Linked DNA regions of Homo sapiens: region 2 is reported to be linked to region 1. The links are microRNA targets in miRTarBase. Many come from high-throughput screens and were not tested one by one. Region 1 holds a microRNA gene; the other region holds the end of a gene's coding sequence.

Region 1 (4,396 bases):
GCTACATAATGGATGCTGTAAGGAGAAAGAAACTATCCTTCTTGTTCACACCCATCTTTTCCCTCCTCAAGGTGGATGTCATTGCTAATATGATTGCACTGCTAAGGTCATCAAGAGGGCAGTTTTTACAGTGTCCCTATGAGATGGCAGGGACTTGCTCACCCATCACTCAGCAAACATCCACATGTCCATGACCAGCTACTGCCCCCCTCACACCTGGCCCCACATTGGGACCTGGCTCATTCTATCTTCATCACTACCAGCTATGGTCTGAATTTTTGTGTCCCCTTCCTCCACAGATTAATATGTTGAATCCTAATTACCAACTCGATAGTATTAGGAGATGGGACCTTTGAGAAGTGATTAGGTTATAAGGATGGAGCCCTCATGGACCGGATTAATGGAAAGAGAAGAAAAGAAAAGAAAAAAGAAAAGAAAAGAAAAGGAAAGAAAGGGGTCCAGAGAGCTGCCTTGCCCTTCTACTATGTGAGGACACAGCAAGAAGGCATCATCTATGATCCAGGAAGTGGGCCCTCACCAGACACCAAATCTGCTGGTGCTTTGATCTTGAACTTACCAGTCTTCAGAACTGTGAGCAACAAATTTCTGTTGTTTAAAAGCCACCCAGTTTAAGGTATGTTTGTTATAGTCGCCCAAACAGACCAAAATGCTCTCTCTTTCTAACCAAGGGGTAATGAGAGGCTGAGATCTGTATTCATTTTTAGGGGTAAATAATGGGGGCTCCACTTCAGTTTATAGCCTTAATTGTATGCTCTCTGGAGGAGGAGAAAATGGGGATGGGCAGAGATGTAGAATAGATATTGTACACACCCCACAAAAAAATAGCAGCCTTTGTTTTCCATTTGCTGTCTTCTCTCTGTCCTACCATCTGTCCTCAGAGAGAAGAGGCCTCACAGGCAAGAAGAACACGAGAACACAGATGCTCCCAGGGTCCCTGGAAAAATGCCATCAAAATCTAGTGTACATCTGTAACAAAGACAGTTTATTGTTCCAAGAGGCTGCATGTTTCACCTAATAAAGAGTCATATAAACATAAGGAAGCTCTGGCCTCAAGCTACAAATGCATTTGCTCACTGAGTGCCTGACTGGAGGACAGACTGTGCTTCCTGAACAAACCAGAACCATATAAAAACAATCCTCCCTGAGTACACAGGACCCAAAGTGATTTCTCAGGATGCTCATTTCCTTTCACAAGTAGTCCCAGGTAGTATGTCATGTCCAGAGCAGTCCTGGTACTCTCCTAGAACACCACAGCTCAACATCCTTTCGGTTCACTGTCCAGAGGCCTAGCATGCTCATTTCCTCTCTAAACCCCTTGACTCTCAGAAATGTCCCTAACACATTTACAGTTTACAAAGTATTTTCACATGTCATTTAATTCTTGCAAGTACTCTGTGAGATGACAGAGACTCAATCATTCATTTATTCAGCAAGCACTAATCAAGGGCTAGGTACCATGCCAGACCCTGGGGAGACAGAACAAGCTAAGATGTGCTGCCCACACTTGAGGAGCTCACAGAACACCAAGGGAAACAGGCAATGCCCCGGCCTAGCTGCCATGGCAGGAGGGCACCACAACTTAAGAGAGCACAGAGGGAGTCCATTCTGGCTCAGGAGAACCAGGGAGGTTTCCTGAGGAATATGGTCTCATTCCTGATGGGAGTCAGAGCTGAGCAGGCAAAGAAGGGGACCAAAGGAATGCCAGGCAAGCAGGAGGGCATTCAAGTTATAAAAGAGAAAGCGTGGCCCAAGTGTGGTGCTTTGAGCAGCTGAGTATGGCTTGAAGTAGAGTGTGAAGTGTGGGAGGGGAGGTGGACAGGAGATAAATCCAGAGAGGAACTCGGGGCCAGATCACAGGTGAGTATATTTCAGGACATGGTAAGGAAATTTGGATTTTTACCCTAGGGAAATAAATAGGTAATTGCTAAGGGTTTTAAGTAAGGCAGGTACATGAATGAGCTGTGCAGTTTAGAAAGAGTAATCAGAATGGGTAGGTGCAGTGGCTCACACCTGTAATCCCAGGACTTTGGGAGGCCAAGGCGGGCTGATCACTTGAGTTCAGGAGTTCAAGACCAGCCTGGCCAATATGGTGAAATCTCGTCTCTACTAGAAATACAAAAATTAGCCAGGCGTGGTAGCACACACCTGTAATCCCAGCTACTCAGGAGGCTGAGGCAGGATAATCACTTGAACCTGGAAGGAGGAGGTTGCAGTGAGCCAAGATTACATCACTGCACTCCAGCCTGGGGGATAGAGCGAGACTCCATCTCAAAAAAAAAAAAAAAGAGTAATCAGCCAGTGCAGATGCTGGACTGAGGGAATAAGCCAGGAAGATCCTGAGTGGTCCAGGAGAGAGAAGAGATTTTCATTCAGAGCAGTGGGAATGGGGATGGGGAGTAGGGATGGTTCAGGATATATTTAAGAGGACATACAGGACTTGTGACTGGATGACTGTGAATGGTGTAGGGGAAGCTGGGGCAAACATCCAGATTTCTGTTTGGGCCCATGAGTAGATGATGGTGCCATTCACCTAAGTAGGATGAGGAAGAGGAACAGGTTTGGGAAGAAAGTGAACGATTGATTGGGCATGCTGAGTTCTAGGGACATATAAATCCCAAACAGAGATGTTTGGGGAAGTTTGGGTTCAGGGCTCGGCAACTCAAGGGAGAGGTCTGGCTTGGTGATATGGATTTAGGGGACTCTGGCATAGTAGCTGTAGATGGTGTCACAGAAGTATGTGAGGTCTCCCAAAGGGAGGATGCAGAAGCCTGATGTCATTAGACAGATGAAGGGACTGAGGCTGCCTGAAGATCTCATAGCTGGTCCATGGCAGAGCTGGGCTGGAGCCAGGTCTTCTGACTCCAAGCCCAGTGCCCTATCTGCCACACAAAAGTCTAGCCAAGGACTCCTGGATATGAGCCTGGGCTGTACCTGGAAGCCAGCAGGTTTTACCTCTGTTGTTTCCTTGTTTTATCTAATAGGAAGTAGCCCTTGAGCAGTGGCCAAGAAGCCCTTCATCATGTTGCTCTTGGTAGGCTACAAGGGTGAGTGGAGGAATAGTCTAAATACCTACTGGGGAGATACCCTTGGGTGAGACAAGGCAGAAAATGCTCACACTTGCCACCATGTTCACCCTGTCATTCAATCCTTACATCTGCTCTTCCTGGGTCACTCACCTTCCTGCTTACTTCCCTAGACTCTGCTCACATCAGGTTCTTTGCTTCACCTCCCCTCTCCATCAAAATCTTCTTGTTTTAGTCCCATCCCACCTCCACTCTATAGTTCTCTGCTAGACTATGAGATAAAGCAAGTCCTGCTAAGATGGGTACTAATCAGTTAATGAGAAATCCATCCCATGGTACCCACTCCTTTTAACCAGAATTCTTGGAGACATGTAAGTAGCATTGCTAAAGGCAATAATTTGAAGCAATTTGGCCAATTATTGAGGAAAGGATAGGCATATAGGCAGGAGAGGAAGTAAGAGAGAAAGTTGGGGCCCGATCACCATCGGTATGTTTCATATTACATTAACATGTTTGGAGTTGAGTTCATTCAACATGGTGATGCAGTGGCCTGCTGGTTAAGGCCCTCCTTGTCATGACAGTTGACATTCTATTTCAACACCTGTAAACAATAGGTGTGCCCTTCTGTACACACACACCGTAAGCATCTCTTGTCTCCTCATCTGCAATACAACAGAACAGAGACAGGGTGATTTTTCAAATCAAGGCCACAGGTCCCAAATGTTTTTCTCAAATTCTGTTAGTGATCTCATTGGTAGAACCAGTGCCAGGCCGGGCTAGAAATCCAATCAGAAACAATGTTTACTAAGGGCTGAATTAAGAAGGAATCTCTTGGGTGAGGGAGGGTTTTTCTCCCTTGGCAAAATATGATTTGCTGTTTTCAAGTTAATGAAAAGAAGGGGGAAAACAAAAAATAACAACTGAAAGATCTTTTAAAGGAAGTACAAACTTGGACAGACCAAGGAACACTTATGAAACAGCCTGCCCTGCTGTCTGGTTCCAGCCTTGCAAGACTTAAGCCACAGTGACCCCAGGGTCACGGAAAGAAGCAGCCCGCTGGGGTTAGGGTTTGAGGAGGAGGAATGCTGTCCAGCACATGTGGGGCAGGGCGGCAGGTTTATCTCAAGGGCTCAAGATTCTACAGTAAGCCCCAGGGTATGTTGACTGCCTGTCTGGGTAGACATCGGGCCACCCAGTCCTCTAATGTGACTCTGGATGATGGGTTGGCCGCAGATGGTGAGGCGAGCCCAGCTGGCCTTACAGCTACAGACAGGAAATGCCAGAGCCCTGGGGATTGGGCATCATGGAGTTCATTAAATCACATGCCTTCCAGCTGTAAGGTTGTCCAGTCT
Region 2 (4,396 bases), not on the chromosome of region 1:
AGCTGGGGTATGGATGGACGGAGGGAGGGATGGATGGATGGAGGGATGGATAGATGGATGGGGGATGGATGGGTAGATGGGGGATGGATGGATAGATGGGTGGATGGGGGGATGGACAGATGGAGGGATGGATGGATGGACAGTTGGGGGATGGATGGATGATAGATGGGGAATGGATGGACGGATAGATGGAGGATGGATGGATGGGGGATGGATAGATGGAGGGATGGATGGATGGATGGGGGATGGATGGGTGGATGGGGGATGGATGGATGGAGGGAGAGATGGATGGATGGATGATGGACGGAGGGAGGGAGGGATGGACGGATGGCGGATGGATGGTTAGATGGATAGATGGAGGACGAATGGATGGAGGGAGGGATGGGTGGAGGGAGGGATGGATAGATGGATGGGGGATGGATGGATAGGTGGGGGACGGATGGATGGATGGAGGATGGATGGATGGATGGATGGATGGGGGATGGATGGATAGATGGATGGATGGGGGATGGATAGATGGAGGGATGGATAGATGGGGATGGAGGGATGGGGGATGGATGGATGATAGATGGGGGATGGATGATGGATGGATGGATAGATGGGGGATGGATGGATGAGGGGATGGATGGATAGATGGGGGATGGATGGATGGAGGGATGGGGGATGGATGGATGATAGATGGGGAATGGATGGAGGGATAGATGGGGATGGATGGATGGGGGATCAATAGATGGAGGGATGGATGGATAGAGAGAGGGAGGGAGGGAAGGATGGAAGGATGGGGGATGGATGGATGAATGCATGGATGATGGATAGATGGAGGGAGGGATGGATGGATGATGGATGGAGGGAGGGATGGATGGATGGGGGATGGATGGATAGATGGGGGATGGATGGGTGGAGGGAGGGATGGATGGATGGGAGATGGATGGATGGATGGATGGGAGATGGATGGATAGATGGATGGGGGATGGATAGATGGAAGGATGGATGGATGGACAGATGGGGGATGGATGGATGACAGAGGGGGGATGGATGAATGGATAGATGGGGCATGGATGGATGGGGGATGGATGGATGGATGGATGGATGGATAGATGGGGATGGATAGATGGAGGGATGGGGGATGGATAGATGGAAGGATGGGGGATGGATGGATGGATGGATGTTGGAAGGAGGGGTGGATGGTATATAGAGGGATGGACGGACAGATGGATAAAAATGACAGAACTTTTGCAGCTTGGGGGCTTTCAGACTAGGGTCGTTGTACCTGCCAGTGTTTCTCCTGGGCAATGTCTGGACCCTGTGTTTCACAGGGGCTGGGCTGAACATGCCATTTCCAGGAAGAGTCCAGCGCTAAGGCCTCTGGAGGTGTTCTGTTTTGGGAGACCAGGCAGCCAAGTATTTGTACAAAAGAGGACCCAGAACTGCCCACACCACCACCTCTGGGATCCCCCCACCCCAGGGGAGGTTAAAGCAAGCAGAGGGACACCGACTGCTGCCACACAGGAGGTCTTTGGCATCCAAGCTCTGTCCAGGCCTCAGCATTCTGCAAGAGGACACCACGCTGCCACCATGTGTCCCAGACAACAGCCAGAGATGTGGAAGGAAGAGGTGCCGCGTGGACTTCTCTTTTTACAAAGACTTTATTGTCTGACATGCTTGACAAAAAAAAAAAAAAAAATTACAGCCACAATCAAGTTATGCCAAAATGATTGAGAAGCACGCCGTCATCTTCATACCTCGAGGACTTTTAATGAATTTTCTCTTAAAGTAACAGCTGCCTTCATAACTTTTCTTTTCCACATAAAAATACACCATATTCTGAAGATACCTTAGGAAAAAAATTTTTTTAAGTTTATCGTTCTTGGTCCACATAGAAATTGAGTGGAGCTGGCACTGAAAGGGCCTGCTTTTCTCCACCCGCACACATGTCCTGCGCCTGGGGCATCAGAGAGACCTCATAAACATCCCTGGCTACAGGAACCCCTTCAGCCAAACGGGATTCCTGGAGCCCTGCACCCCACGGCGCTCAGCTTCAGCCAACCCGATACAGTGCTGCTGCCAGGCTTCCAGGGACAGCAGCCCCACCCCTCGAGGAGCCCAGCTCAGTGTGGGCAGAAAAGGACTCCCAGGATGCTAGGATGCTGCACCCAGGGTTCAGGACTCCTCAGAGCTCACACCAGTTTTGAACAGGACCCTTAAAAATAAAAATACAATAAAAAGAGCCTTGGACCATGCATTGCTTTGTAGGGACATAACTTCGGGTCATGGCAAAGTGAGGGCAGTGAGGCCAGAGAACAAGGGTCAGATCCTGCCTCGGCTCCTTTTGTGCTGTGAGCCCCCAGGCAAGTTACCACACCCCTCTGGCCTCAATCGTCTCATCTCTAAAATGGGACTAAAGTACCTACCTTGAAGGACCATCTGAGGATGAAATGAGTCTATATCTGCAAAAGGGCTCACGGTAGGCTGGTTCCCAGGGCTGGGACCTGGGTGAGGGAGTGACACCCTTCTCTCAGATGTACAACGGAAAGGGGTGCAAAAAAAGTCACCAATCAGGACAAATAATACTACTTTAATGCAACGTTAAAAATCAAAATAAATGCAGAAAAAGTCCATGATGAACAAAATATTAAATAACGACAGAATCTGACCCTGAACTTGCCCATTTCTGCCTGACTGCCTGCCCCTCATCTAGGCCCTACCGGTTCCCACCACCGCCCTGGCCCCACCCCCTCCAGTCCTAATTCAAAGAAGAAAAAGAAGCTGTCCAAGGTGGGGCTGCTGGAGCCTGGGGCCCGCTCGGTCCCTGTGCCACCCTCCAATTCACAGGGCCGGCTGGTCCTGGGCTTCCTCGGCTGCAGGCATGCCAGACAGAATCCTAACGGTGCAAGGGAAGCCGCACCAAGGAACAGAACCTCACTACGGGGCAGAAAAGAGAAACACAGGACCCACTTGGTTCAATTAAGAGGGGTGCGTGCGTGCATGTGTGTCGGTGCGTGCCTGGACATGGGTTCACACCCATGGCAGGCCTGCTGCAGCCTAAGCCTGCAGACCCTCCATCCAGGCTACCGCATTCTACAGAGCAGTGTGTTCCCCGTGGGACCAAGGGTCATCCCCCCATGACTGGGAACGCTCTCACTGGTCCTGGGCACGAATGCCAGTGGCTCATTCTGTAGAACCAGCCCCCATCATCCAGGCTCCGAGTGAATGCCTAGGACACTCAGGTCATTGTTCAAGTAAACAAAAATGCCTATGGGAAGAAAAAGGGGGGAACAATGCCAGGCAAACAGCTGTGGGCCTGGCCAGGTGCGGTCTGAATTCCTGAGATGTCCCTAAATGCTCCCTCGGAGGGCCTCCGCCTTGGGCCTGTCTCCTCCCTCACTTGGGAGGAGAGAAAGGGACTGTCTGTGTGCAGCTCACGAATCCTCCCACCCACCCCAACCCAGGGGCATGCCGCCACACAGACCCGTGGTTAGAGGGAGATTTTGTGTAACTTCCAAAACCCATTCAAGAGCAGCAGCTTCCCAAACCAGGAGGGCGTCCAAGGGAGAAGAATGAAGATTTAGTCATTTCCCAAACATGACAGGGCCATGAGCTTAGTAGGTCCTTTAACGAGGTACACGCAGGATGTACACGCAGAAAAAGTAAATGAGCACAGAACCCCTGATGGGGATGCGCAGGGTCCCAACTCCAGGTGACAGAAGGCTAAAGAGTCGTTCCAAGGCCCTGACCTGCCTGCTAGGCCAGTCCCCGCAGCCAGATGGGTCGTCCAGGCAACTCAGCATGGAAGGAACAGTGGCCGGGCCAGGCCTGTGGAGCTGACACGGGCGGGCAGGGCAGGGGCAGTGGGGAGCAGTCAGGAGTTCCGGGGTGTGGGGAGGTCGATGACTATGGGCGGGTTCACGGGCTGGTAGTTCACAGTGCATACGGACGCATTCACATAGGTGGTCGTCCCATCTGCCATGACACCATACCCTGGAAAGTAAGCACATGCCCATCAGGCCAGCAGCCAGAGTAGTGAGGGTGGCCAGGGGGGTGTGGCAGTCATAGGGCACTCAGCCCCTGTGGGCTGAATGTGTTTGGGGCAAGCTGGTAAACTCTCGAGGTCAGTCCCTTCATCTGTAAAATGGAGATGATAATGATACATGCCACTTCCAAGCCTGCTGTGAGGATTATATGAGATAATTATCTATGTACTGTGCTCGGCCCAGTGCCTGGCACATAAGAAGCACGCAGTGAGTCATCATCATCGACATCATCTTCACCACCATCCTCGTCACCATCACCACCACCACTGTACCACCATCATCACTATCAACATCATCATCACCACCACCCTTATCGTGATCATCACTATTTTTCACCACTACTACCACCATAATCATCACTAATG

Evidence for each region. Region 1 holds the annotated microRNA hsa-miR-378g (ACUGGGCUUGGAGUCAGAAG, at 2,874-2,893, opposite strand). A microRNA usually pairs through its seed, bases 2 to 8, with sites in the 3' UTR of a target mRNA and lowers its output. Matches are read on the target gene's strand: a 7mer-m8 pairs with bases 2 to 8, a 7mer-A1 pairs with bases 2 to 7 and ends in A, and an 8mer does both.
Region 2: miRTarBase lists MPPED1 as a target of hsa-miR-378g. Seed matches in the 3' UTR shown: 7mer-m8 at 2,845-2,851.

Annotation. Positions count from the first base shown.
Region 1 is chr1:94,743,007-94,747,402 of GRCh38, forward strand. It overlaps MIR378G (microRNA 378g), which reads right to left and starts at 2,894; the gene lies at 2,854-2,894. All of the region lies in intron 1 of SLC44A3-AS1 (SLC44A3 antisense RNA 1), which reads right to left.
Region 2 is chr22:43,505,080-43,509,475 of GRCh38, reverse strand. MPPED1 (metallophosphoesterase domain containing 1) reads right to left here. Exons shown (of 7, transcript NM_001044370.2): 7 at 1,628-3,978. The coding sequence ends at 3,860. Among named protein-coding and RNA genes, the nearest start is that of EFCAB6-AS1, 9.0 kb to the left of the region's middle.